Homo sapiens: one gene and its partners. The protein of the gene in region 3 interacts with the protein of the main gene of each other region in a pairwise test. Each region holds a gene or a part of one and is shown on either strand. Other genes may lie near its edges.

Region 1 (7,025 bases), on a different chromosome or scaffold from region 3:
CAGTGCTCAGCTGCACACAGTCGTGCATGATCTTCATGGTCACCAGCGAGTGGATTTTCTGCTCTGCCCGCAGGCGCCGCATGCAGCCGCGGATGGCTTGCAAGCTGTCGGACTCCAGGTTGGAGCTCGTGGAAGGAAGCTCAATGGAGCCTAAGTAGCCCACGATCATCGCCACGTTTAAAATACTTGCATCCAATGCAAAATCGTCATGACTTTCTAGTCCAATGCTGAAAACCGAATCATCATGAATAACTTTTGATATTTCCTCCTTAGAAAGCATGTTGGGATTTGGATTATTTATACTTTCATGTCCAACATCAAATCGAGTTGCGGCCGACTCTGAAAGGGATCTTTGTTTCAATTTCAAGGGCTCTGAATTGCTCGCACAAAGGCTCGGGTTTTCAAAAATCATATTGAAAATTCCACCAGACTGCATTTCCTCCACGACTCGCTCTGCTCTGTTTATACCTAGTGCTTTAGAATCCAGCTTGGGCTTCAGCCAGCCTTTTCCTTCATAGAGTCCCCCTTCTTCATCACTGGAACAGGATTCGAAGCGGCCGACGCCTTCAGCAATCACCATGTGAAGGACACCAGAGCACTTCCCAATTAATTTCACTACATCTTCATGAGATGCTTTTTTCACGTTGATTTCATTGACAGCAAGTATCTGGTCTCCAGCTCGGAGGCCCACGAAATCCGCAGGGCTCCCTCTCATGACGCAGCTGAGCACACAGGGTGCCTGTCCCGAAAGCGTGAATCCGTAGCCGGCCCTCCCCCGGGCAACCTCCACACTCCGCACCCTTGGGGGCGACGGCCCAGGCAATGGGCGTTTGGAGGCCTCCCCAGCTCTAAACATTCTGATGAGCTTCCAAGACCAAGAGCACGTCTCATTGTTCCCTTGGAGCCATATTTCAAGGAATGCTTGATGCTACCATGTTTGCTTCTTCAAACAGTGCCCTAAGAAAGAAAAACGAACAGCTCATTATTAAAGAGCCCATCTTTCTCCACCACTCACTGGTATTAGCTAAACACAAAAAGATAATTCATAATAAAAACCACCACAGAAAGAGCCTCTAAGTGTCTATAGATAATAAATCTTCAAGTCAGGCTAAGAAACTTCCTTTCGGAGTAGAAAATGTCTCCCACAACTGCTACCTTGTTACCACACAAGTTCCTGCCAGGCCCACCTGCCACGGGTGTGAGGATGCAGGACTGCTTCCCAGCACTGCTTCCACACCCTGTTTGGATGGAAAGAGCCCCTTGCTACTCAAAGTGTGGTCCGTGGACTGGCAGCCCGTCTGAAAGGCAGACTCTCGGGCTCCACACAGAAGAAACACACCCAAACCCACGTTTCACAGGATGGCAGAGTCCAAGCGTGAGAAGCAAGGCCTGCTACAGGCTTCAGGTTCAAAGGCACCTGCAGAACACTGAGTCTAACCCCTTAGTTGATCATAAATCCCCTGACATAGAGTTTTCCCTCAGGAGAGGGGTCACCTAATATTCCATGACCCTCCCACATTAATTTATTTTGAATATACTGTGTGGGGGAAAACGTATTAGCCTGAAACAACCTCGATCAATACTGCAGAGGCCACTCAACAGGCTAGATAAAAACCACCACCTAAAAAAGCAGAAATGTCATATTAACTCAATTCTTCCAGGGGGTATAAAAGTATTGGTTGTCATTGAGAACAAACTTGTCAGTGGTCCGCGGATCACCCCCAGGCCAGTGATTCCCTAGGATTCCCAGGACTTGGCACAAAGGTGCTCTCACAGCTGAGATTCATTACAGCGAAAGGATTCCACACAAAATCAGCAAGGGCAGAGGTCCATGGGGCGATGTCCCAAAGAAACCAGGCTTGAGCTTCCAGAATCCTCTCCCAGCGGGGTCACGCAGGACGCACTTAACTCCCTACACAGTGAGCCGTGACAACGCATGTGCAGTGTCGTCACCAGGGAAGCCCACTAGAGACTCGGTGCCAGGGTTTTTACTGGGGGCTGGGCACATGGGCACCCTCTGCCTGCTTCGTGCCCAGACTCTGGACTCCCAGAAGAAAGGAAGGTTCTCAGCACAAACCTTGTTCCCCACACAAGCAGCTAAGCACAGGGAGCCCCTCTTCATTGAGGGTGGTGGGCACCGTCCTGACACCAGCGGGGGGCCAGCCTTGCACACAGGCCTCTCAGGATGGTCTCGGGCCTGCTGTGTAGTCTCTTCTGCAAGACTCTTTAAAGATCACTTTAAAAAGCAATACAGTAAGTGATTGTGTTGTGAAGACACAAAATAGAATAGAGGGTATGTTTTTTTAAAGAAATAATTGTTTTAGGCCAGGTGCGGTGGCTCACGCCTATAATCCCAGCGCTTTGGGAGGCCGAGGCAGGTGGACCACGAGGTCAGGAGATCAAGACCATCCTGGCTAACACGGTGAAACCTTGTCTCTACCAAAAATACAAAAAAAATTAGCTGGGCATGGTGGCGGACGCCCGTAGTCCCAGCTACTCGGGAGGCTGAGGCAGGAGAATGGCATGAACTCGGGAGGTGGAGCTTGCAGTGAGCCGAGATCGTGCCACTGCACTCCAGCCTGGGTGACAAAGCGAGACTCTGTCTCAAAAAATAAAATAAAATAAAATAAATAATTGTTTTAAAGTTAATAACTTCTAATAGAAAAGATTTTTGTGTCTTGGGATAAAGTTTCCAGCAATAGGATCATAAACAGATTTGAAGTAATTTACACACATAAAAGCTACAGAACTAGATAGAGTGGAAAGGCTATTACTAGGTGACTCCAAAAGTGGCTTCAGTGATGACAAAACACGGACACAGAACATGCGTACTTAGTAAAATTATGTTTTGATGGAAAAGAGTAAAAAATGAATATAAATTACATTACTCAATATCTAAGTAGTACTGTATTAATAATTTAAATATTAGGACTGGGCATTTAACTATTTAAAATCATTAAAAAATGAATTTAAAAAATAAAATAATTAAAATTATTTTATAATTTTTTAATAATTAAAAATTATTAAAAATCATCATTAAAAAATAAATAAATAAATGTAAAAGTTGGCCAAGAAACACGTCTGGGGATCGATCTTCTTAAGAGGTGTGACAGGCTGGCTGATGGCCCCTGATACACCCACATCCTCACTCCCAAGCTTTTGGATGGCTCCTCCCATCCACGTGACCACGTGAAGGCTCTAGAGATGGGGAGAGTGTGGGGTGCGCCTGTGTGAGCCTGGGGTCAGAGCCAGAGGGGACGGCCACATGAGGAAGGATGCGGAGACTGCAGGGATTCAAGGATGGGTCTCGAGCCCAGGCAGACGGGCAGGCGGTCACCTCCAGAAGCCGGAAAGGTGAAGGAAGCAGACTTAAAGTCACCAGAGGAACCAGCTCTGCCACACCTGCCATCAGCCAGGTCACACTGACTGCAGACACGAGGCCCCCGAAAACGCAGGAGAATGAATGTGTGTTGTCTTAAGCCCCCCAGTTTGCAGTAATTTCTTTCAGCAACCCCAGGAAACAAATACAAGGGGGAATCACTTTGTCACGGGTGAGGGGAGAGGGAAAGCAGGACATGCGTGAAACGGTCTCACTAAAGCACGCTCAGAAAAGCATCTGTCACACAACAAAGGTGCTGCTGTTCCCGGCAAGTGCCAGCTATCACTGTGAACAGCCCCAGGACAGCAGGTCATGAAGCCTTGATGGCTTCCTCGGGGAACAGAACACCTCTCGGCTTTCTCTTCCAAACAGGAATAGATGCTGCCTCAATGAAAGACATGACTTCCCAGTTTATTCGCACCATCCGCCTCACACTGTGTGACATAATGATGGACAATGTCTTCTATGCAGTCCACCCAATTTTTCTACTAGACTCTTACTGTCATGGGCCTCTGCTTATTAAAAAGAAATGGTTTGTAACTCATGTAAGTAATATCTTATTATCTATAATCACGTTTCTTTGTTTTTATTTTTTAGAGACAGGGTCTCACTCCATTGCCCAGACTGGAGTGCAGTGGCACAGTCATTGCTCGGTGCAGCCTCAAACTCACTCCTGGGCTCAAGCCATACCAAGCACACCCCCATACTCGGCTAACTATTTTTTTTTTTTTGGAGAAAACTGTATTGAGATATTTTAAGTCACGTATCTAATATAAAACCAGTTTGCATTGTTTCAGCTTGTCTTCCTTGGAACCTGTGGTTGCCCTTCACCTCCTTCTGGCAATTTAAATTGCTCTGATTTCGGCAGAATATTCCCCGGACATCAGGACCATCTCCACATTCATCCCAGTCTTTGAGACAGCTCCCGGAGATCAGCTTCCTGGTCAAGCACAAGAATCTCAGCAGCACCGTGATCTTCCTCTCTCTCCTGGCCAGGTAAGACCCCGACTTTCAGGTGGTGGTTCCTCTTGCTGAGGCTGCTCATCACTGGGCTCAAGCACAGGCCCAGTTAGCTCAGGAGGCTGCACATACCGTCTTGGTCTAAGCCTACATGCTGATCTTCCTTGCCAACTCATATTTCAAACGGCTGCTTCTCAGTAGTGGGTAAAGAGTCCAGAACGCAGGAACGCAACCCTCACACCCTCACAGGTCCACAGTGTTCACCACGTGGGCAAAGGGGCCAAGGAGAAGACACCCAGTGAACCTTGGCTAATGTTTTAATTTTTCTGTAGACGAGGTCTCACTATGTTGCCCAGACTAGTCTCAAACTTCTGACCTCAAGCAATCCTCCCACCTTGGCCTCCCAAAATAATCACATAAGTTCAGCTTATAGTTTAATTTTTTTTAAAACTGTATCAATTAATAGTAAAGCTAGCAGAACAGACAGTGAAATTTAGAAGACCATGGGGTACTGGATTCCAGCTGAACTTCCATTACACCATCGGGGCTACCAGTAAGAACGCCTGCTCCCAAGCCCCTGCACCTCCCAGGGACTCTGACTTAGTAAGTCTGGGGCAAGGCCAGGAAGCTCCAACTTCCCCCTACACACCTTCCAGCTAACTCTGAATCACCTTGACTGGAGATCATTTAACCCAGCCTCTTCACTGTGTGGAAAAGGGAACAAGGTCCAGCCAGAAGTAATTCATCCAAGCCCTGAGGCACAGATGGGATGTGACACGAAGGTCCCCACTCGCCGCACAGCACTGCCACCTCCCATCAGGAGTCACCGACCACGTCACACAGGCTGAGTGTCCCTTAGAAGAGATTTTTGGGACCAGAAGGGCTGTGGATTTTTTCTGATTCGGAACATCTGTATATACGTAATGAGATATGTTTGGATAGGACCCAGGTCTGAACAGGAAATTCATTTATGTTTCATATACACCTTATACACACAGCCTGAGGGTAATTTTGTGCGGTACTTTTGATAATTTTGTGCATGAAACAAGGTTTGTGTACACTGACCCATGAGAAAGCAAAGGTGTCACTAGCTCAGCTATGCCTGAGGTGCCACATCGGTGTCAGAGGGTTTCCGATTCTGGAGCATCTGGATAAGGGATGCTCAACCCGCACTGTCACTCCTTCACTCATTCATCATTAAAAACTCATGGTGTAAAGAGGACAATAAAACAAAACAAAGAAAAAAAACTCAGGGTGATCTAGAAATAAATATTGCTGCCATGACACTTTTCTATTCCCTTCTAAAGTTAAAACCTCCTATAAAAGGTCCTGTTCTGATAAACTCCTCCACTCATGCCGGGCAGCACCCAAGACCTGCAGGTACAGAGATGGGTCCTAGGCCTGAGCTACGATGCAGCAGGCCCCGAGCGAGGCAGGGCTGGAAAGACCAAGCCAGCACCCGTCCGCACTGCCCGTGCACACAGTGTGAGGCGAGAGAGACGCCGTCCTCCGAAGGCAGAGAGAGTCTGGGGGCACCGAGAAGAAGAGAGCAAGGCACAAGAACAGCACAACATCAGCAATCACGGCCTCCAGGGTGACCCCACGGGCTGCAATGGCAGCCGCCACGGCCAGGACTTGCTGTGCAGCGCATGTCATCCTAAACACCATCATCGCTCTGAGGAAGGCTCTGTTACAATTCTCGCGTGCAGATGAGGGAGTGGGGGCACAGAGAAGCTAAGTAACTTGTCTACCAGCACACAGCCAATTAACGGCAAAGGTGGATTTGAACCCAGGCTATTCTTGGCTTACCCACACTTACGTGGATGCACAGAGGAAGGGCCTGAGACAGCAAGACACCACGCCACCTTCTCCACCTGGGACCTGCCCCCGCAGGCGCCTGCCCACCTCACACCCTCCCATAGTCATCATGTCCCAGCAGCCTCCCCCCACCACCACCTCACAGTGCCCACAGCTGCCGAACACCCACCTGGCACCCCCCTCCCACCTCATCAGGGACACACACACCAGACGATCTGATACCCGCCCCATGCAGACCCGCACTGGCCATCCCTGCATCCAGCCACCTCCCATCATTCACCTGAGAGGCCCTCCAAGTCCCTGGCCACTCTTCCCAGACCTTCCCTGGACCCAGAGCAGCATGGACCTGCCCGCCCTGGACACAGCAGGACACGGTGCCAAAGGGAGTGAGCTGGCAGATTCTGGAATCACCAAGGCCACTTCCAGGCCATTTTACTGAGCCACCAGTCAATACCTCTCCACACTTCCCTTCTTGGGGTGCAGCGTGGACTGGAGACAGCCCTTGCCTTGGCCTTCCAGGCCCCAGCTCCTCTCCCGCCCGGTTCCCCTCAGAGGACACCTGCCATTTCCCGGGTCCCAGCTCCTCCCCGACACGGTTCCCCTCAGAGGACACCTGCCATTTCCCGGGTCCCAGCTCCTCCCCCACACGGTTCCCCTCAGCGGACACCTGCCATTCCCGGGTCCCAGCTCCTCCTCAACACAGTTCCCCTCAGCAGACACCTGCCATTCCCAGGCCCCAGCTCCTCTCCTGCTCAGCTCTCCTCAGAGGACACCTGCCATTTCCCGGGTCCCAGCTCCTCCCCCACACGGTTCCCCTCAGAGGACACCTGCCATTTCCCGGGTCCCAGCTCCTCCCCCACACGGTTCC
Region 2 (7,025 bases), on a different chromosome or scaffold from region 3:
CCTAGCAATGGACAAACTCAACCACATTCAACACATAAGGAAACCAGGGACAAGAGAGGCTGGCATTCTTCACTCTACGAATACTTAGGGCACTGACTATGTGCCAGGCACTTGCTTTGTGCTAGGGATATAAAAGTAAACATACAAGGTACCCGTACCCAAGGAGCTCACAGCCAAGATAATGGATGAGTGTCCTGAAAGCAGAAATTATCACACAGCTTAATAATTATTGTGAGAAATGCATGCTCAAGATGCAAGGTGCAACTCATCCAGGCTTGGGAGCAACTCTTGTGAATGAGCTGACCTGGAAGGAGATGCAGAAGTCAGACAGAGAGGTTATGAAGCAGTGTTCTAGGAAGGCCAAAGTGCGGGCAAGCCCAGTGCATTTAATGACCAAAGGAGTGACAGTACGAGGGAACTCTAGTCCTGGGTTTAGGAGACAATAGTCTCCTGACTCCCTGTTCAGTGCTATTTTAGAATACTGCCTGTGTATTGACAAGTCTGTGAAGATTCAGCACATACATCAATACTCTTGCATAGAAAAAAAAGAAGCTTACATGGCTCGTGCTATGCCAGTGTAGACATTAGGATTCTCTAAACTGCCTTGCTCAAAATGTTTCTTTAGAGGAATAATTACTTCCTATTTTAGCTTTTCATTTCCTTCTAAATGTTTATATCAATTGGGCCATGCCATAAAATTCTTAAGTCTGGAAGGGATTTAAGTTATCATTTTTTTGGCAACCAAGGGAGTGCAGGGACAGGGTGGAGTAGGGCTCAGTGGGAGCAATGCCAACCCTGGTGCAGCAATAAAGGGGGCATTCTCTGCAGGGAATTTAAGAATTAATAATAAAATTGACCAAAATCACTCTGCTTTTTATTATCACTAATTCTGAATAATGTCAACAATAAATACTTGCTGCCAAGGCAAACTTCTCTTACTGACCCTTCCCTATGTGCATGGCACTGCATTATGTGTATACCCGTGCATGCAGAAAACCAGCCCTGAACAGGCATTAGAAATACCCAAAGTGTCCATATTAGCCATCTAGTCAGTTCATATGGCCACACCCTCGCCATTCAATTTTCTTCTGTAAACAGAGCTTGAGTAGTCAAAATCAGACACATCAAAACCCCACATCAATGTGCATCTTCCTAAAATTATATTTCTCTCCAATTAGCATTCACATCTTGACTAGTCTCATATCCATCTCCAGCTGGGGCCGCAGGGGGCTGACATCCGATGCTGCCGCTTCCCTATGCACAGGCTCACCAGGAGCAGTCTTCGCTCATCTTCTCCAGTTGGGCCATCTGGCACGTGCTTGGAGGGGTAAACACCGAGGGGTCTTTAATACCCAGCTGGATGTCAAAAAACCGCGTAGACAATATCACACTGTAGTTTATGGTAAAGGTTTCCTGGACAGGATAGCAATCCTTGACTGTATAGATGCCAATCCAGGTTTCATCTATAAGAGGAAAAAAGTTGACTTTTAAATAAAGAAGACAGGCAAGAAGTTCATATTTTTTCTTATGGTGGTAAAATGTACATAACATAAAATTTACCATTTTACCATTTTTAAGTGTTTGGTGGCCTTGAGTACATTCACATTTGTTGACCATCAGCACCATCCATCTCCAGAACTTTTTTCATCTTCCCAAACTGAAACTCTGTCTCCATTAAACACGAACTTCCCATTCCTCCTCTCCCAGCTCCTGGAACTCATCATTCGATTTTCTGTCTCTATGAATTTGACGACTCTACATACCTCATGTAAGTGGGATTGTACTGTATTTGTCATTTTCTGCCTGCATTGTTTCTCTTAACATTATGTCCTCAAGGTTTACTCAGGCTGTAGCATGTGCTGGTGTTTCCTTCCTTTTTAAGGCTGAATAATATTCTGTTGTATGACTATACCAGATTTTGTTTATCCATTTATCTGTTGATGAACATTTGGGTTTCCACCTTTTGGCAATTGTGAATAATGCTGCTGTGGACATGGGTGTACAAATATCTGTTTGAGTCTCTGCGTTCAATTCTTTGGGGCATATATATATATACAGAAGTGGAGTTGCTGGGTCATATGGCAGTCTTATCTTTAATTTTTTGAGAAATCACCATACTGTGTTCCACAGCATGAATGCCTGTGTGGTAAAAACTGTCTTGGGATAGGCGTATATCAGCAGCAGGGCAGAGAATGGCTTCACATAAAAGTAGGCTGGTTTGCACACTCAGCATGATGGGAGTAGATTTGACCCCTGCAACTTTAGGAAGTGGGGGAAAGAAAAGGAGGCACCCAATTCAAATGTGTGCCTTAGACAGATGCCTTCCATGTCACAGACCTCGGGACGACCATAAAATGTCAAAATCAAGGCTAAGTTCACAGGAGCCAAAGTGGCAGAGAGGTGCAGGTGGCACTAGAAGGCTGAGGTGTTTCAAATATGAAGCTTAGATCCCGTTGCCACATAGTGAGCAAAGTAACCTGCAGACCTAAGTGGAGGCTTTAAAAAATTTTTGATTAAGCGGATGTTTCCCTAAAAACTACCTTCCTTAAAGGACTTAAACCTTTTTCCCCATCATGCATGCTGAATACAATGCTTAGATTCTTTGAACCCTTACAGGATCTAGCTGACTTTCTGTCCGACCACTCCTGGACGGTGATCTGCTCCTGAGGCCCCCCGATGGAGTACTGGTCTTCAAAGGTGGAGTTTTGAGGAATGTCAAGAGGATCCCAGGGCTGTGTCAGGGTCATCTTTGAGCACTGCTTGGTGGCTTGGTCAATCTGAAACATCACTCCATCCTTATACAGCAAAATATATTCAAATAATCTGAAACACAGATGGAAAGAAGTAGTTTGGGACTTCATGTTACCATCCTCGTGCCTTTTAACAGCACAAACACCTTTGATAGATATTACTTTTAAAATAGAAAGAAATTACTAGCTAGGCAATCACTTAACGTTTATAAACACTAGGCACATGAAACAACCTGCATATGAAATAATTAGAATTCACAGGTCAGACCGAGCATGATGGCTCATCCCTGTAATCCCAGCACTTTGGGAGGCCGAGGATGGAGTACGTTTTGAGCCCAGGAGTTTGAGACCGGCCTGGGCAACATAGTGAGACCCCTGTCTCTAGAAAAAAAATTTTAAAAATTAGCCAGACATGGCAGTGCACAGCTGTAGTCCCAGCTACTTGGGAGGTTGAAGTAAGAGGATCACTTGAGCCTGGGAGTTCAAAGCTTCAGTGAGCCATGATCATGCCACCGCACTACATACAGCCTGGGTGAGATCCCGTCCACCATCAAAAAAAAAAAAAAAAAATTGAGGTCAAAAGTGTATATTCACTGGGCAAATTTTGACCAAGGACCTAGTATATGCCAGACCCTGTGCTTAGCATACAAACATGGGGAAGATATGGCTCCGGCTGAAGAGCTGGTTTGTGAACTTTTGTTTACCCACAGAGACACAGGAGGACTTGACTCTTGTGTGGTGCATTTTCTCTCACAGCACTCAGTCAAGGAATTATGGGGGTATACTGAACATAGGACAAGAACACACTGAGGACTGGATGGACCGAGTGCCTGTGCTTCACTGCCTCCACTGCCGAGCAGTCATGAGTAAGGGGCTTTGATGCGCATAGCTGATCCGGCACGGGCGCAGCCCACATACCCTGCAGTGGCTGAGATGAGAGCAAAGACAAAAGCTGAGGCGACCCCAGAGCAAATGACTCCCTTAGCTGAGTTTCTCTCCATGCTCTCAGCCTCCTCCCGTGACCACCTGCTCACCCTTCCTGGGGAGTGACAGGGAGATATTCAGAGGCTGAGCCCAGGAGTCACCAGCCATGCAGTATTGGCATCAGTCCTGTATCTTCCTTAAAGCTGAGACATCTTGGTGTTGGGGGAAGCCTGCTGTGTTTCTATGCATTTCACTGTCAATCTAAAACTCAGGCCACAGCTGCTGGTCAAGAAAATGTGTCTTGCAGCCATGACCTCAGAAAGTGAAATCTGCAACACTTGAGGGCTGAAGAGCCTAGAGAAGTGACTTGTCATCAGCAAATAAAAATAGCCAACAAATTATCTGTGGCTTATGAGACCCAATGCACTAGAGGAGACTTCAGGGAAGACATTTGCTCTCCAGCCCAAGCCCGAGCTTAAAAACTATTTTCTTCGGAAAAAAATGTTAGAAATGGTTACTGTCTTTATAGTCAAAACACAGTCGTGCGTCACTTCATGATAGGCTTATGTTCTGAGAAATGTGTCATTAGGCTATTTCATCACTGCACGAACATCATAGAGTGCAGTTACACAAATCTGGATGGTACAGCCTACTACACAACAGGGCTACACAGTATGGCCTACTGCTCCCAGGGTACAAACCTGTACTGCATGTGACTGCACTAAATACTGGAGGCAACTGTAACACAATGGTAAGCATTTATGTATCTAAACATAGAAAAGGTGCAGTAAAAATATGGGATAAAATATAAAAAATGGTACGCATGTATAGGGTACTTGCCATGAATGGAGCCTGCAGGACTCGAAGTTGCTCTGGGTAGGTGAGTGAGTGAGTGAGTGGTGACAGAATGTGAAGGCCTAGGACATTTCTATACACTTCTGTAGGCTTTATAAACATTGTACACTTAGGCTACACTAAATTTATAAAAACTATGTTCCTTTCTTCAATAATACATTAATTTTAGCTTCCTGTAACTTTTTAACTTTATATACATTTTGATTTTTTAAACTTTTTGACTCTTTTGTAGTAAGACAGCTTAAAACACAAATTGCACAGCTATACAAAAATATTTTCTTTATGTCCTTATTTGATATGCTTTTTTCTATTTTAAAATTTATTTTATTAAAAAAAAAACTTTGTGTTAAAAATTACAACACAAACACAGATATTAGCCAGGCCTACACAAGGTTAGGATCATAAGTATCACCCTCTTTCACTCCCACATCTTGTCCCACTGGAAGGCTGTCAGGGCCAGTAACATGCATGGAGCTGTCACCTCCTATAATAACAATGTTTTCTTCTGGATACCTCCTGAAGGACCTGCCTGAGGCAGTTTCACAGTTACCTTTTATGTAAGTGGGAGCACACTCTAAAATAACGATAAAAGTATAATATAGTAATTACATACATGTGGCCAACAAACATAGGAAAAAAAGCCCAACATCACTGATCATTAGAAAAATGCACATCAAAAACACAAAAAGACACCATCTCATGCCAGTCAGAATGGCTATTAATAAAAAGTCAGAAAACAACAGATGCTGGCGAGGTTGTGGAGAAAAAGGAACACTTTTACACTGTTGATGGGAGTATAAATTAGTTCAACCATTGTGGAAGACAGCGTGGCAATTCCTCAAAGACCTAGAACCAGAAATACCATCAACCCACCAATCCCATTACTGTGTATATACCCCAAGGAATATAAATCATTCTATTCTAAAGATACATGCATACCTGTGTTCATTGCAGCACTATTCACAATAGCAAAGACGTGGAATCAACCTAAATGCCATCAATGATAGACTGAAAATGTGGATAAAGAAAATGGGGTACATATACACAATGGAATACTATGCAGCCATAAAAAGGAACAAGATCATGTCCTTTGCAGGGACATGGATGGAGTTGGAAGCCATTATCCTCAGCAAATTAACACAGAAACGGAAAAGCAAATACTGCATGTTCTCACTTATAAGCGGGAGCTGAATGATGAGAACAAATGGACGCGTCGGGGAAGCAACACACACTGGGGCCTGTTGGTGGAGCTTGGGGGAGGGGGAGCATCAGTAAGAATAGCTAATGGATGCTGGGCTTAATACCTAGGTGATGGGATGATCCGTGCAGCAAGATACCATGGCACACGTTCACTTGTGTAACAAATCTGCACATCCTGCACATGTACCCCTGACTTAGAATAAAAGTTGAAGAAAAAAAAGTATAATACAGTAATTACTTATATGCTAGAATTGTGTACAACTGACAGCACAGTAAGTTTGTTTACACCACCACCACCCCAGACATGTGAGTAATGCACTGCGCTACCACATACTATGGCTATGAGGTCACTAGGCAATGGAAGTTTTTCAGCTCCATTGTAATCTCATGGGACCACCACTTCATTGACTGAAACGTCATTATGAAGCACATCATTGTATTATTAGTAGCCGTATGCTTCAGGTTTCTATGAGGTAGTATGGAAATATAAACATGACATCATTTTACACCTTTATGTGTATCTTGTTTATTTCAGAAAAGATTTGAAACGGCTTACAAGGGTAAAAATAACCCAGACACATACCTTTAGAAATGAGAATGAATATAGAAAGAAATATAAGTGTGCATTTTATGAGATATTGCTCAAAAATGGAGCTAATTTTTTATAATATGCATGCAGGGTCAACGTAAAACTGTTAGCCCTTTGAAAAAGTTTGGGTTTGGATTGTCACTGTTTTCTCATAACCAGCTAAATCTCTGACACAATAGAGCCTAAGCACTGATTGAAGAAACACAGCAACATTAACCCAACTCTTAGAGCATTGTTCATTTGTAAATATGGGAATTGTTGTCCATACACAAATCCTGTCCTGTGATACTTTTAATGACCCGTGGGCCACCCAAAAAACAAGTTGTCTTCATTGTTCTCCTCACCACCAGCAATATCTTGTGCTTTCCCCAGTGCTAGATATCTGGGCTAGAAAGGCATTCCTAGCTTTTGCTGATATCCCTGTTGTGTGCTTCTCAGACTGCAATAGTTGTTCCCTGGAGAATATGTAGCCATGTGCAGGAGAGGGGGTTTCCTTCTTGAAATCATCGCCATCACTCCCCAAATCCACAGGATCACAGAAGTGTCATTAATATGGTTTGGCTGTGTCCCCACCTAAATCTCATCTTGAATTGTAGCTCCCATAATTCTCATGTGTCATGGGAGGGACCTGGGGGGAGGTAATTGAATAATGGGCACGGTTCTTTCCCATGCTTTTCTTCTGGTAGTGAATAAGTCTCACAAGGTCT
Region 3 (7,482 bases):
AGTATGTACTAAAGACACTATAAAAAGCTTTTCCCAATTTTACAAGTCAACTAATGGCAAAGATAAAAAAAAATACTACAAGTTTAGTCCCTCAAAATTTGTTAGGATTTGTTTCAAAAAGGTTCCTCTCGACTAAGCCTTTCAGTGTATGTATGTATATAATTATTCTTAAGTACTTTACGAGTCAGAAACTTTCTGTTAACTTACTACTTATCCTCACAACAACCCTGTGAGGTAGGTGGGTGATCTCTATCATCATTTTACAGGGGGTGTTTTTGAGGAATTGAGTGAAGTGTCTTGCCCCAGGTCACAGAGCAAGTCTTCAGGCAGAATTAGGATTAGATGTCCTGATCTTCTGGCCTAAACTCTGATTCCTTACTGGGCTACCTATTTTAAAAGTCTGAACTCATTAATCCTTTATGAAGAACATTAAACAAGTCTTAATGCCACAGTTAGAAACAGCCAACTATTACACAAACTTACTAATTCGATTCCACCAGTTCAACCAGGCAGATTTATTGGTCACCAAACACCTAATTAAACAAAAGAGAACTTTACAGAATAAACATTTTACTTTGATATTTAAGCTTAACTGCTTCAAACAATTTTAAAAATCAAAATAAACAACTAATATATTTTCAAGATCATGTATAAGAACACAATGAAACAAGCTGGAAAAGTCTTGGCTTGCAAAGGAAATCAACTTAAATTCCATTTTCAGATAATTAATAACTTAACCTTGCTAAAATTGAGAACAACCATTTGAAGTTAGAAGAGTGGGCCGGGAGCGGTGACTCATGCCTGTAATCCTAGCACTGTGGGAGGCCGAGGTGGGCGAATCACCCGAGATCCGGAGTTCGATACCAGCCAGGCCAACATGGCGAAATCCTGTCTCTACTAAAAAATGCAAAAATTAGCTGGGCGTGGTGGCACACACCTGTAATCCCAGCTCAGGAGGCTGAAGCACGAGGATCGCCTGAACCCGGGAGGCGGAGGTTGTAGTGAGCCGAGATAGGACCACTGCACTCGGCCTGGGCGACAGAATGAGACTGTCTCAAAAAAAAAAAAAAAAAAAAAAGAGTGTACATTTCTCAAAGTTTAGCTTTTTTTTGGCGGTTCTACAGTGCTCAAACTCTGACATGAAGCCGCCGCTCTTTTTTTTTTTAAGAGGAGGCCTCGCTCTGTTGCCCAGGATGGAGTGCAGTGGCGCGATGTCGGCTCACTGCAACCTCTGCCTCCTGGGTTCAAGCGATTCTCCTGCCTCAGCCTCCCGAGTAGCTGGGATTACAGGCGTGAGCCACCACGCCCAGCTAATTTTTTTTTTTTTAATATATTTTAGTAGAGACAGAGGTTTCACCATGTTGGCCAGGCGGGTCTCGAACTCCAGACCTCAACTGATCTGCCCACCGCTCTTCATTCTTGACCCTTAACTCATTAAATACGATATGTCTCTCGCTGACTACTCAGAACCTTTAAAAACGTGGTTGAAGCGAAATCTCTCCAGTGTTTGTGACATGGCAAAGCATGCTTCCCCCAACCCAAACAAAAACCTAACAAATGCAAAAACGAGCCTCCAGAGACAGAAAAAAGAAGGCAGCTAAAGTGAAAAAGCCACAAAAGATGTAGTGTTAGGATAAAAGAGGAAGGTTACTGACACTGGGGGAAATGAACTAAAGAGTATGAAAATAAAACATTTGTTTTCCCCTTAACTGAATGACGATTGAATCTTAGCTCATAGTGTAGAATATACCATCTGGAAAAGCAGAGTAAAACAGGATTAAACTTGCCCTACGACAAACATAAACGACATTTCCCTGTTTAAAGAGTCGAGGTATTTCTTAAAATCATAAAACAAAAAAATTAAGACTTAAGGATGAACTCATCTATGTATAATGCTCATTCACTTCCCCTTTATTTGTATACTTCTAGGGGTCTGGTGGTTCTAGCGACTGAAAATTCCTATCCAAATACCAATGACTTGAATCACATTTTCTAGGACTGCCACAAACAAAAGATTTATTTGGAGACGAATAAAAAGGGGCCGTAGGATTACCTACAAGAAGTTATTTCCTCCTGAGATTGATGGCACAACCTTGTCAGCAAATTGCTGTTGCCTCTCTCAGTTACCAAAAATAACCCGTAACAAACACCAGGCTTGGGTGTAAGTTCTTTCCTAAGGGAACAACTCAGCAGAGCTGTTTATAACTAGAGAGGAGGAAACAATAATCTGCAAGATGTCGCCAGGTCGGCAACGCGAACTGACTTTGACTGGGGGTTCAGCTCTGCTCCTGCGCCGAGGCGAGGACCGCAGGTTTAGCGCGGTCCCACACACACCTGCCCCGGGCGGGAGGGCACCGAGGCGCGCGGGACGCACGAGAGTCCCGCCCTTCCCGGGTCGCCCCCGACCCGGGCAGTCGGATAGGGTCCCGCACCCGGGCCCCACCTCACCTTCACGGGCGGAGGCGGCCTGGGGAGGCCCTCTAAGGCCCCCCTCACGCCCAGCGCGGCCGCCGCCCCGACCTCAGCGATGAGGTTGTGGCCGCAGGCGTGGCCGATGCCGGGCAGCGCGTCGTACTCGCAGAGGAAGCCCAGGTGCAGCGGGCGTGGCGTGGCGCTCGGTGCCCGGGCCTCCGGCGGCTCCCACTCGGCGCGGAAGGCCGTGGGCAGCTGGTAGTGCGGCTGCACTGCCCAGGAGGCCGCGGGCGGCTCCCGCTCGAAGAAGTGCGTCAGCACGCGGTGGGCATGGTGCTCCTCGTAGGCCAGCTCGGGCTGGCTCCAGATCGCGCGGCTCAGGGCCCCCAGCCGCTCGGCCGCCTCGTCGATGCACTCCGCCGAGCGCAGCTTCAGTAGCTCCAGCTCGGAGCGGCCATTGCACGCGCCCCCTTCCACGGGCCGCTCCCCTCCGGGCCTCATGCTGCCCAAGCCCGCTGCCCTCTGCGCCCTCTCGCTCCCTGGCTCGGCCGCAGGTAGCGACCGCCCGCGCACGCGCCCAGAGGCCTCCAGGACCCCGGCGGAGCGCGCACGCGGCCACACAGCTCCCAGGGCACCACCCCCAGTCCCGGGGCCGCCCCCGGCGCCGCGCGGGAAACGCTGGCGGCCGCTCGTACCCTACCAGGCGCTCTGCCCCGCCGTGGGGTTTTGGGGGTGCTGTGGAGAAGGCAGGGCTCGGGACTCTTCCACCTCCTTGGCTGCTCTGGCCTTTGAGTTATGCTCTAAGATTATCGATTACTTTTCCGTTGTTGCTTATTTCCCACAGCAGCAGAATGAGAACGGTTATTAGTTAATAGCCATCAGAGACAGACCAAGTGGAACACAGTCCTCGGAAAAACGCCACTCTGTAGCATTAGTAATTAAAACCTCACAAGGTTTGTATTTCCTGAAGGAGGCCGTCAGTGTCAATGCTGTACTAACGACGGTACTGTACGTAAGTTTCGGTACTGCCCCCACTTTCTTCTCCTTGACATTGTATTACTAAAAGCTGCAGCTACTCTCTACAGTTTTCTCATTGGTTACTAATGTCTGGAACAGCAGCTAGATTATGCAGTAAGCTCTTGGTATGTATTAGCTATTATATAATAATTTATTTGAATAGAGTAGAACTAAAAATTTGAAATGAGTTAAAACCAAAGAGTTAAAAGATTTATGGTAGTAAATATTCATACTGTTTTGTTGATTTGGACAGTTGTCTTGAACAGCTTTGAAAGGGAACATATGACAGGTTTCGTTTATAATTTTAATTGATGCTGAACTCCACTAACATGATATGTGCAGCTGGTGTTACATTATAACTGAGTTTTTTAATTACCCAGTGAAGAAATTCAAGATGTCATGCTCTTGTTTTTCTCCAGAGTGAACCACAAAGTCTGAAAAACTGTTGTTGACGGTATGCCTATTAATAACACTGTAGATGTTTATATTCTGAGGTTTTCCACATATTAAAAGCTTCTATCAGCTCTTCATACCCTATCATCTTTCCTTAATTTGTCTCAACTATGTTAAATGGGACACAATATATTAATGTGATAAACCAAATGAATATTTTGAAAATAAGTCTAAGGGAAGCTAACATGCACGAAGACTATCAACTACTGTTTTTACTACTCTATATGCTAATAATACCAGAGTAAATGTCACATTCCATTCACGTCTGAAAACTTTCTTTCTCAGTTAACACTCCAACAAAAACTCAGCTCTAAAAACAACAAATGTGTTATTAAATTCCTGGGCCCCCTTGGCGATAATAAATCTTTCTCTGGTATTCTGCTGAAGAAAATTACCCTGTATCCACGAGATCCAATATTATCCTGCTCAGTTAGTTGGCTAAAAAAAGGGGAGAAGGGGGGATTGGAGAGCAAAAGCAATAGGTGACATTTGTAGAGCAATTACTCTGTGCTAGGCACTGTTCCAAGGGCTTAGCATTTGTTAACTCATTTAATCCTCACAGCAAACTATGAGGTGGTTAATGTGGTTATTTATCTTCATTTTACAGATGTATGTCCAAGATTATAGAGCTAGTAAGTAGTGGACCCACTGTAGAACAGAAGCCAGAGTCAGCCTCCAGTGGCTGACTTTCAGCCACCATGGTCTATTGCTTGTGTAAACAGACATGCAAATTCATAAATGCATCTCCAGTTTATCTATTCAAATCAGAACCCACAACACTCATTTTGAATAAATTTTACTGCAGCAACTCTGCCTGCTGACATCAGTAGAACCCATGTTTGCCCTCCTCAGGCATCAATAAACAGCAACAGAAAAGGGATGCATATAATTTCATATAGAAGCTGCTATTTATATTGCTTTGCAGGAATTAACAAAGCTGCCACTTGAGGTAGAGGAAAGACAGATTCATTTCAAGCTCTGTTCCTTGTGTATATATGTGGGTGGGTGGGTGGGTATACATGCCCACAGGCACGTATGTATTCAGTTTCTACTGTTGACACCTTGTATTTCTTGCTCATGGTATTTTGCACCCTTGAATTCATTTATTTGATAAACTGTGATAACTTGCTGACCGTTTATCTTCCCCTCCAGGCTTTAAACTCTTTTGTTTTCCCACTGCATTCCCCAGCACCTAACATCTTATGGTCAGCATTTCCTCTGTGTTAATAAATATTTGTTGGCTGATTATTCTTCTTGAATCTAATAAACTAACTGAATAATGGCAGCAATTAACCATTAAACGACACTGACTACCAATAGACATTGTTATGCTTCTTCCTAGACTTCTCAGTCCTTTATGTGGAGCTGGGGGCAGGAAGAATTGCTTCTGGAAGCTGATGGAGTTGGACATGTGGCTTTCTAGAATCTGGTCAGCTCATAAATTCTTACTATTACTTTCATTTGTACCCATAATATTCATACAACTGTCTACCCTATCTATGTGCTACTGGTAAGGAACCTGTATGTTTTTATTAGAAACAAAAAAAAATGTATACAAGCTCCCTTCCTTTAGCTGGTGCTGGATCTGAGGAAACAATACAATATCCAGAATTTAGTATTAAGATGTATAACCTTTTTGGGGGGGTGAGAGGAGTGCAGATAGTTCTCTCTTGAGGACTGGTTTTAAAGTATATAAATGTTCTTTCTTGGCTCCTGATGAGAAAAAAGGGGAAAAAATATATAAAGATTCCTCTTCTTTCCTGGCTGCTTAGAAAACCAGCTGTCATCACAACTGACTCAATAACTTTGAGAACAGGACATTCATGACAAATGAGTGCTGTGGTGGAAAGAGTAGATCAAAAATTTCCTTTACCCTGGAAAAGCAACTAAAATACAGCCAAATTGTACAACTATACTGGGTATTATTTTGGGCTTCAGATTCAGAACTCCTTTTGAAAAGGCAGCAGGCTTTTGTATGGTTTATATTCTTTGAATTAAGATAGAAATAATAAAATAAAATCCCCAACATGGCAAAGCATGAGCTCATGGCAAAGCATGAGCTAAATGAGAAAAAAAAGTTTTTGAAAACAGAAAAAGGAATGGAATGAAAAATAAAATGAAGAAAATTAAAGGTAGAGAAAAAGTAAATAGAAGTACCAGAGAGCTTCAGTGCAGGATTTCAGGAATGAAAAGCAAACAAACAAAAATAATTGTGGGGGGCCGGGCGCGGTGGCGCACACCTGTAATCCCAGCACTCTGGGAGGCCGAGGTGGGTGGTTCACGAGGTCAGGAGATGGAGACCATCCTGGCTAACATGGTGAAACCCCGTCTCTACTAAAAAATACAAAAAATTAGCCGGGCGTGGTGGCACGCACCTGTAGTCCCAGCTATTCGGGAGGCTGAGGCAGGAGAATGGCGTGAACCCGGGAGGTGGAGCTTGCAGTGAGCCGAGATCGCGTCACTGCACTCCAGCCTGGGTGACAGAGCGAGACTCCGTCTCAAAAAATAATAATAATAATAATAATTGTGGGGGAAAGGAATAAAAAGTGCAAAAATGATTTAATCCAAGGAGAGAGTGCAGATATTTCACCAAAAAAATCAAACTTATAATACCTTCAAAATATATGATATTTCCAAAAGTGCATGTGAATCCAGCCTACATCGTTTCAGTTTAACAATACTTGGAACTACAGCAATTTTCTCCTGAACAAAATGCTGGCCACTGCACGATTTGAGGACTGCTGCTGCCAGCATGGAGAAGAAGCAAATCACAGTGTCACTTTGGTATACTGGTCATTTACAACATTCTCCTAAGCATCCCCAGACACACATGCAAACTTGGTTAACTCCAGAAACTTCTCTAGCTGAAACAAACACGTAACACGCACTAGATAGCACATGTAAAATCAATCTGGGCTAAGGTGTTGGAAGAGCTGGTTGTCATATGGCAGAAAGCAGACAACTAAGAGAGTAGGTGAGCAGAAAGGTGAATTTGATTGGGGATGAAGGGACATAGAGGAAGTGTACAACACATTGCTAAGGAATTACAACTTTAGCTGGTTTTGGTGGCTCATGCCTGTAATCCCAGCACTTTAAGAGGCTGAGGTGGGAGGATAGCTTGAGCCCAGGGGTTCAAAACCAGCCAGGACAATATAGGGAGACCCTGACTCTACAAAAAATAAAATAAAATAAAATAAATAGTAAATAAGCCAAGCATGGTGGCACACATTTGTGGTCCCAGCTCCTCTGGAGGCTGAGGTTTGAGGATCGCTTGAGCCCGGGAGGTCAAAGCTACAGTAAGCATGATTGCACCACTGCACTCCAGTCTGGGCAACAGAGTGAGACTTTTGTCTCAAAGTAAAATAAAACTTGGACAATGGCTAAACTATTGGATGTTATTAAGCAGGAGAGAGACAAGATCAGAAATTTGTTCTACAAGAATAATTGATGACTATTTGGAAGATGAATTGGAAACAGACTTAGGTCTGAGATAAGTTAAAAGCTTTTGCAGGCCAGGCGTGGTGGCTCACGCTTGTAATCCCAGCACTTTGGGAGGCCGAGATGGGCGAATCACTTGAGGTCAGGAGTTTGAGACCAGCC
Region 4 (7,025 bases), on a different chromosome or scaffold from region 3:
CAATCTGTACCAGGCATATGCTGTAACAGTGGTAATAATGCAGCAATGTTCTCAATTGTCTTCTTTTTAAGAAATGTGTGACTCCTTTAAAAAATATATGCTATTTTATTTTTTCATCTGTTGTCTTACATCCTTTCTTAAACAAAGGTGTAAGTAAGTAAAATTAAAATGAAAGGTTAATAAAAAGCAGACAATAAAATTCTACAGCCAAGCAAAGCATGTTGCTCTCATGTCCCGTTTTCCATTGTTTTATTACTAAATTCACAGCAAATACAAAAGTTTTCCATTGAATTCTCTTTAAGAAAGAAAATAAAAGAGGTGTTTTGGTAGATAATGCAAAATTAGAGCATTAACATTTCAAGAAGCAATTGTTTGAAATGCCCAAAGCAGAAAATAACTGGCTTATAGATCATTAAAGAAACACATTGTGAAATGTAACCTCACGTTTGCCAATCACATTATGAGATGACATTGGAAGTGGTGGGGCATCCTCAACAGCCCCCTCCCTGCACACAGGCAGCTTCTCTAAACTCCACTTCCCGGGCACCCTCTTGGGCCCACCCCTGCCCCCAGCTCTGCCTCCTCTCTGCTTGGCTCACAACTATCCTATCTTTACCCCAAACACCCAAAAAATGTTATCCTTGAGCCTGCACCCTACTCCCATACTTAGCCCCAACTTCCAGGAAAGCTCCCTATCCCCATGTCAACTTTCCAGGAAGCACAAGTTCAGAGAGATCACTGTCTTTTAAAAAGAACAAACTCAGTGTTTTGAACAGAAAGTAAAAAATGCTTCAGGAATTTTTTTTTTTTTTTTTTGAGATGGAGTTTTGCTCTTGTTGCCCAAGATGGAGTGCAATGGCACGATCTTGGCTCACTGCAGCCTCTGCCTCCCGGGTTCAAGTGAATCTCCTGCCTCAGCCTCCCATGTAGCTGAGATTACAGGCATTTGCCACCACGCCTGGCTAATTTTTGTATTTTTAGTAGAGATGGGGTTTCTCCATGTTGGTCACGCTGGTCTCAAACTCCCGACTTCAGGTGATCTGCCCGCCTCAGCCTCCCAAAGTGCTGGGATTACAGGCATGAGCCACTGCGCCCAGCCTCTTTTTTTTTCTTTGACAGAGTCTTGCTCTGTTGCCCAGGCTGGAGTCCAGTGGCACAATCTTGGCTCACTGCAACCTCCGCCTCCTGGGTTTGAGCAATTCTCCTGTCTCAACCTCCCAAGTAGCTGGGATTACAGGCGAGCATCACCACACCCGGCTAATTTTTTTTTTTCGTATTTTTAGTACAGACAGGGTTTCGCCATGTTAATAAGGCTGGTCTCAAACTCCTGACCTCAGGTGATCTGCCCGCCTCCGCCTCCCAAAGCGTTGGGACTGTAAGGCGTGAGCCACCACACCCAACCTCAGGAATTTCATAAACTAATGCTTAGCATACATTCTAGCACTATGATTTTTAGTAATATTACAAGTGGATAGCAAAGTTCATCCTTAGCCAGGATGAAGCATACCAAGTATGTCTTTCACATTTTTAAATTTATTTATGTACATGTATGTCTTTCACATTTTTATTTATTGTTATATTATCGTTTAGATGGATTCTTGCTCTGTCGCTCAGGCTGGAGTGCAGTGGTGGTGCGATCTTGCTTCACTGCAAACTCCATCTCCCGGGTTCAACCAATTCTCTTGCCTCAGCCTCCCGAGTAGCTGGGATTACAGACGCCCACCACCACACCCAGCTAGTTTTTGTATTTTTAGTAGAGACAGGGTTTCACCATGTTGGCCAGGCTGATCTCGAACTCCTGACCTCGTGATTCACCCGCCTCAGCCTCCCAAAGTGCTGGGATTACAGGCATGAGCCACCACGCCCAGCCTTTTATTTATTATTATTTTTATAGACGGAGTCTCGCTTTTTATAGACAAAGTCTCGCTCTGTCGCCCAGCCTAGAGTGTGGTGGTGTGACTGCAGCTCACTGCAGCCCCAAACTTCTAGGTTCAAGCAATCCTCCTGTAACCAAGTACCCCCATTTTTTTTTTTTTTTTTTTTTTGGAGACAGAGTCTCGCTCTGTTGCCCAGGCTGGAGCACAGTGGTGCGATCTCTGCTCACGGCAACCTCCACCTCCCAGCAGAGATTCTCCTGCTTCAGCCTTATGAGTAGCTGGGATTACAGGCGCCCGCCATCAAGTCTGGCTAAGTTTTGTATTTTTAGTAGAGATGGGGTTTCACCATGCTGGCCAGGTGGGTCTTGAACTCCTGACCTCAAGTGATCCGCTGGCCTCAGCCTCCCAAAGTGCTGGGATTCACAGGCATGAGCTACCATGCCCAGCCCCATTTTTTCTAAGAGATAGTTTAATTATTTTCTCCTCTCCCCCTTTCCCCGGTACCCTGCTTCCTACTTAGCCCTTTAGAAATGCAAATATAACCTTTCCCCTCCCCCTCACCAGACATCTTCTATGGGGCAAGTTCAGCTAACTACGTGCTCCAAGACGGATCTCTTGACAGTGGATTTGCAGACCAAATCATGTCCCCATGGCCACTTTTACTTCTTTCTGCCCAGGAAGATGCCAACTCAATTGCCAGTTAGATAAAGTACCCAGATAGCAGGGGGACCCCTGCCCTTGCTCATTTCCTCCTATACCTTATAAAAGTGCCTGCTTTCTGCTCTAAAAGTGAAGCGGTACAGCAGGACATCGTGCCCCTTCCCCAAGCTGACTTCAGAGTAAATTCACTGGCTTTGTATGCGCCTCACTCTTGTTAACTGGACTCTGCATGCGGTAAACAACTGACCTGCTTTTCGGCTGCACCTCCACCTTAGGCTGGACTACAGGTTACAGCTCATGCCACCATGCCCAGCTAATTAAAAAAAATTTTTTTTGGCTGGGCGCGGTGGCTCACACCTATAATCGCAGCACTTTGGGAGGCTGAGGCGGGCGGATCACAAGGTCAGGAGATCGAGACCATCCTGGCTAACACGGTGAAACCCCGTCTCTACTAAAAATACAAAAAAAAAAAAAAAATTATCCAGGCATGGTGGTGGGGGCCTGTAGCCCCAGCTACTCAGGAGGCTGAGGCAGGAGAATGGCGTGAACCCGGGAGGCGGAGCTTGCAATAAGCCGAGATCGCACCACTGCACTCCAGCCTGGGCAACAAAGCGAGACTCCGAATCAAAAAAAAAAAAAAAAAAAAAATCAGCTGGGCGTGGTGGCAGGTGCCTGTAGTCCCGGCTACTCGGGAGGCTGAGGCAGGAGAATGGCGTGAACCCAGATGGCAGAGCTTGCAATGAGCCGAGATTGTGCCACTGCGCTCCAGCCTGGGTGACAGAGCGAGACTCTCTCAAAAAAAAAAAAAAAAAAATTTTTTTTTTTAATTAAAGATGGAGTCTTGCTACGTTATGCCAACCCAGGCTGGTCTCAAACTCCTGGACTTAAGTTATCCTCCTGCCTTAGCCTCCTAAGGTGCTGGAATTACAGGTGTGAGCCACCCCCCAATCCTTATGTCTTTTTTTAAAGTAAGCAAAACTTCAAACTTATCAAAATCCAAGAAATAACAATATATATTAACTAAATACCTACTTATGACAGGCAATTTATATACATTCTCAGCACCTAGCAACGCACATACCACACAGGTCATCCTGGCCTACAGTAAGTGCTTAAGCCATTATTACCTGTTACCTACATTCTAACATTAAAGAAACTGATGGCCAGGTGCAGTGGCTCATGCCTGTAATCCCAGCACTTTGGGAGGCCGAGGCGGATGGATCACGACGTCAGGAGTTTGAGACCAGTCTGGCCAACATAGTGAAACCCTATCTCTACTAAAAAAAAAAAAAAAAAAAAAAAAAAAAAAATTAGCCGGGTGTACTGGTGTGTGCCTGTAATCCCAGCTACTTGGGAGGCTGAGGCAGGAGAATTGCATGAACCTAGGAGGTGGAGGTTGCAGTGAGCTGAGATTGCGCCATTGCACTCCAGCCAGGGTGACAGTGTGAGACTCCATCTCAAAAAAAAAAAAAGAAATTGAGAAACAGAAAGGTTAAATTACTAGCGTTGAAGCATAGAACTTCCAGAAGAGTAAAATGGGATTTGAATACTGGACTCCAGCTGCAAAGCCCTACATAGTGGCCTCCCTCTATCCCATTGTTAACTAAGAAGTACTGGTGCCTCCATTCTGCAGGTAAGTAGAGGCTGAGGTTAAATGACTCGTTGAAGGTCACACAAGAGGCAGGCAGCATGGGCTGAAATTCTTGCTTCTCAGCCTCTTGGCTTACAGAACACCCTATGGAATGCAGACATCTGAATAAGTTGTTTTTGGACAACCGAGGCTTAATTCTATGTGCCTGAGGCACACATTTAACTGGAGTCATTATAAATATCAAACTTTAACATAATGTAGTAGATGGAAAATGAAGGAACTGACCTTTTCAGAGCCATCTTTATTTTTTATTAAGACAAAATTAACTGCCCATCATGAAGTTTGATAAGAAAGCAATAAATGTGTAAACACACACCACCTCACTGCTTTAGGTATTTGAGTCGCTCAAATTGGCACAGTTGAGCCTTTTACATGTCAATTTCTGCAGATGGCTGAGTCAGTGGTCCTGATTGGAGGGTCTGCTGTCTCCTTCTTTGTGGGTGACTTTGACCCTAGGACAATCTTGCCAGTGACCAGGGGACCTTCCTCTACTCTTCTAGCCCTTCCTTTCCATCTGCAGCTCAAACTCAACTGTTGGGCCTCACTCTGTGGCTGTAACCTGCAGCTAAGGAAACCCCAACAACACACAATTGTGAAAATAATGATCTACCCTGTACCAGAGAAGGAATGAAAATGCAGGGACTTGGGGTAAACTTTTTACTGGTAGGTGATACTTTTGTACTTCTAGTTTCATGGCTGTTCTGGAAGGATGAAGATCTCAGAACACTGACCTCCATATATGGACTGCAAGAAAAAAACTATTTATTAACAACTTCATTTTTTACTTAACTGTGTTTTTCCAAAAGTGTTTAAAAGTTGAAAAGGAGGATGGCTCCTTAAGGTTAAAACAATTGGGACCAGAGGTCTTCAAACAGGTTACAAACACTGCAAAAATGAAATTCTTTCAAAGACAATGATAAAGTTAGAACTGTAGCCATTTGTCTTGGGAATAAATTAGGTTTGAAATGTGTCAATTAAATTTCCTAATTAATGGATCAGGTAAATTTAACTCTGATTTATAGTTAAGGAATCCTTTCTCCAAATAAATTTTGGAAAATCATCCTGGAAATCTCAGAGGAGTGAGATTTTAGGAACCAGATGATGCATCTAACACTAAACCAGAAAACCTGTCTGGCTTTGGTGTGCCCAGTGAGTGATAAAGTACTCCCTCCTCTCAGTGTGAGGCAGGCACGACAGATGATGGCCCTGCTCTGTAAACAGGAAATCTAGAAGGAGAATCATTAAAGATCATGTGTCTTGTCATAGGAGAACGGGGGGTCCTTTCCAGCTGCCTGCTTCACTCTCTCCAACGGCGGCAACAATGGGGTCTCCAACCTTTTAGCACCACGGACTGGTTTCATGGAAGATAATTTTTCCACAGACTAGTGGGAGTGGAATGAAACTGTTCCACCTGGGATCATCAGGCATTAGTCAAATTCTCATAAAGAGGACCTAACCTAGATCCCTTGCATGTGCAGTTCCCAATAGGGTTCATGCTCCTATGAGAAGCTAATGCCACCACCAATCTGACAGGCAGAGCTCAGGCGGTGATGCTTGCTTGCCCGATGCTAACCGCTTGCTTGCCCGACGCTAACCGCTTGCTTGCCCACCACTCACCTCCTGCTGTGCGGCCCAATTCCTAACAAGCCACAGACCAGTACTGGTCCATGGCCAGGGGGTTGAGGACCCCTGCTCTAGAATACAAATTTAAGGGGATATTTTAAAGTTTAAATCCTGGAGAGGGAGATTCTTCAGCTGATTGTTGACATTTCTATATTAATCCAATTATATACCTCTATTATGCTTATAATTTTTTTTTTTTTGAGACAGAGTCTTGCTCTGTCACCCAGGCTGGAGTGCAGTGGCGCAATCTCGGCTCACTGCAAGCTCCGCCTCCTGGGTTCACACCATTCTCCTGCCTCAGCCTCCTACAGGCGCCCGCCACCACGCCCGGCTAATTTTTTGTATTTTTAGTACAGACGGGGTTTCACCGTGTTAGTCAGGATGGTCTCCATCTCCTGACCTCGTGATCCGCCCGTCTTGGCCTCCCAAAGTGCTGGGATTACAGGCTTGAGCCACGCGCCCAGCCTATGCTTATAATTTTAAAGTAGGATTCCCTGGTTTTGTCTAGAATTGTTTCCATTTGAGATTTCTAAAGAAAACTCTCTGAACTCTACTGAACATTGAGAGTTTTGAGGACACTCTTTTGAAGGTACTTTGAAGTATCAGTGGGAACAGGGCCTTGCCTCTCACAGCTATACTTAAATGGCAACTACTCTAGAACTGACAGCAAACACACAAACAGGTATTAAGATATTCTTCCAACCACACATTAAGATTTAAGATTACTCTGACTTTTTTCCAACTAAATCACGTTATTTCAACTTCACGTTTGATTTCACACAAAAAATTCCAGCAAATATCAAGTTCAGACATCACCTTCAGAGCTTCTAATGGAATCCCGGGATGGAAAACCAGCACACCACACCTGAGTATGACATTTAACACCGAGTTTGCTGACGAAGACAACAGAAAGTGACTTCTGCAAGGGAGCATGTTTCATATGGATTTAACCTATAGCCATATAGCCATAAATATGGAAAGTGCCTTCACTCATTGGGAGAAGTAAAAAAAAAAAAAAAATTTAAGAAATATTTTTTGGCTGGGTGCAGTGGCTCATGCCTGTAATCCCAGCACTTTGGGAGGCTGAGATGGGTGGACTGCTTGAGCTCAGGAGTTTGAGACCAGCCTGGGCAACACAGTGAGACCCTGTCTCTACAAAAACTACAAAAATCAGCCAGCTGTGGTGGTGTGTGCCTGTAATACCAGCTACTCTG

What was found.
Region 1: the proteins of PM20D2 (region 3) and RGS12 interact in binary tests that used the Homo sapiens proteins (3 or more experiments, as listed by UniProt).
Region 2: the proteins of PM20D2 (region 3) and EPDR1 interact in binary tests that used the Homo sapiens proteins (3 or more experiments, as listed by UniProt).
Region 4: the proteins of PM20D2 (region 3) and DNAJC11 interact in binary tests that used the Homo sapiens proteins (3 or more experiments, as listed by UniProt).

Annotation. Positions count from the first base shown.
Region 1 is NC_000004.12:3,310,002-3,317,026, reverse strand, and holds part of RGS12 (regulator of G-protein signaling 12), read right to left. Parts: intron 2,217-7,025; exon of another isoform or gene 2,078-2,216; intron 958-2,077; 5' UTR 857-957; coding exon 1-856. UniProt on the Homo sapiens protein: Regulates G protein-coupled receptor signaling cascades. Inhibits signal transduction by increasing the GTPase activity of G protein alpha subunits, thereby driving them into their inactive GDP-bound form.
Region 2 is NC_000007.14:37,944,638-37,951,662, reverse strand, and holds part of EPDR1 (mammalian ependymin-related protein 1 isoform 1 precursor), read right to left. Parts: intron 2,824-7,025; coding exon 2,615-2,823; intron 1,464-2,614; coding exon 1,267-1,463; 3' UTR 1-1,266. UniProt on the Homo sapiens protein: Binds anionic lipids and gangliosides at acidic pH.
Region 3 is NC_000006.12:89,141,576-89,149,057, reverse strand, and holds the start of PM20D2 (xaa-Arg dipeptidase), read right to left. Parts: upstream 3,004-7,482; 5' UTR 2,914-3,003; coding exon 2,449-2,913; exon of another isoform or gene 2,192-2,448; intron 534-2,191; exon of another isoform or gene 1-533. UniProt on the Homo sapiens protein: Catalyzes the peptide bond hydrolysis in dipeptides having basic amino acids lysine, ornithine or arginine at C-terminus. Postulated to function in a metabolite repair mechanism by eliminating alternate dipeptide by-products formed during carnosine synthesis.
Region 4 is NC_000001.11:6,691,812-6,698,836, forward strand, and holds part of DNAJC11 (dnaJ homolog subfamily C member 11), read right to left. Parts: intron 1-7,025.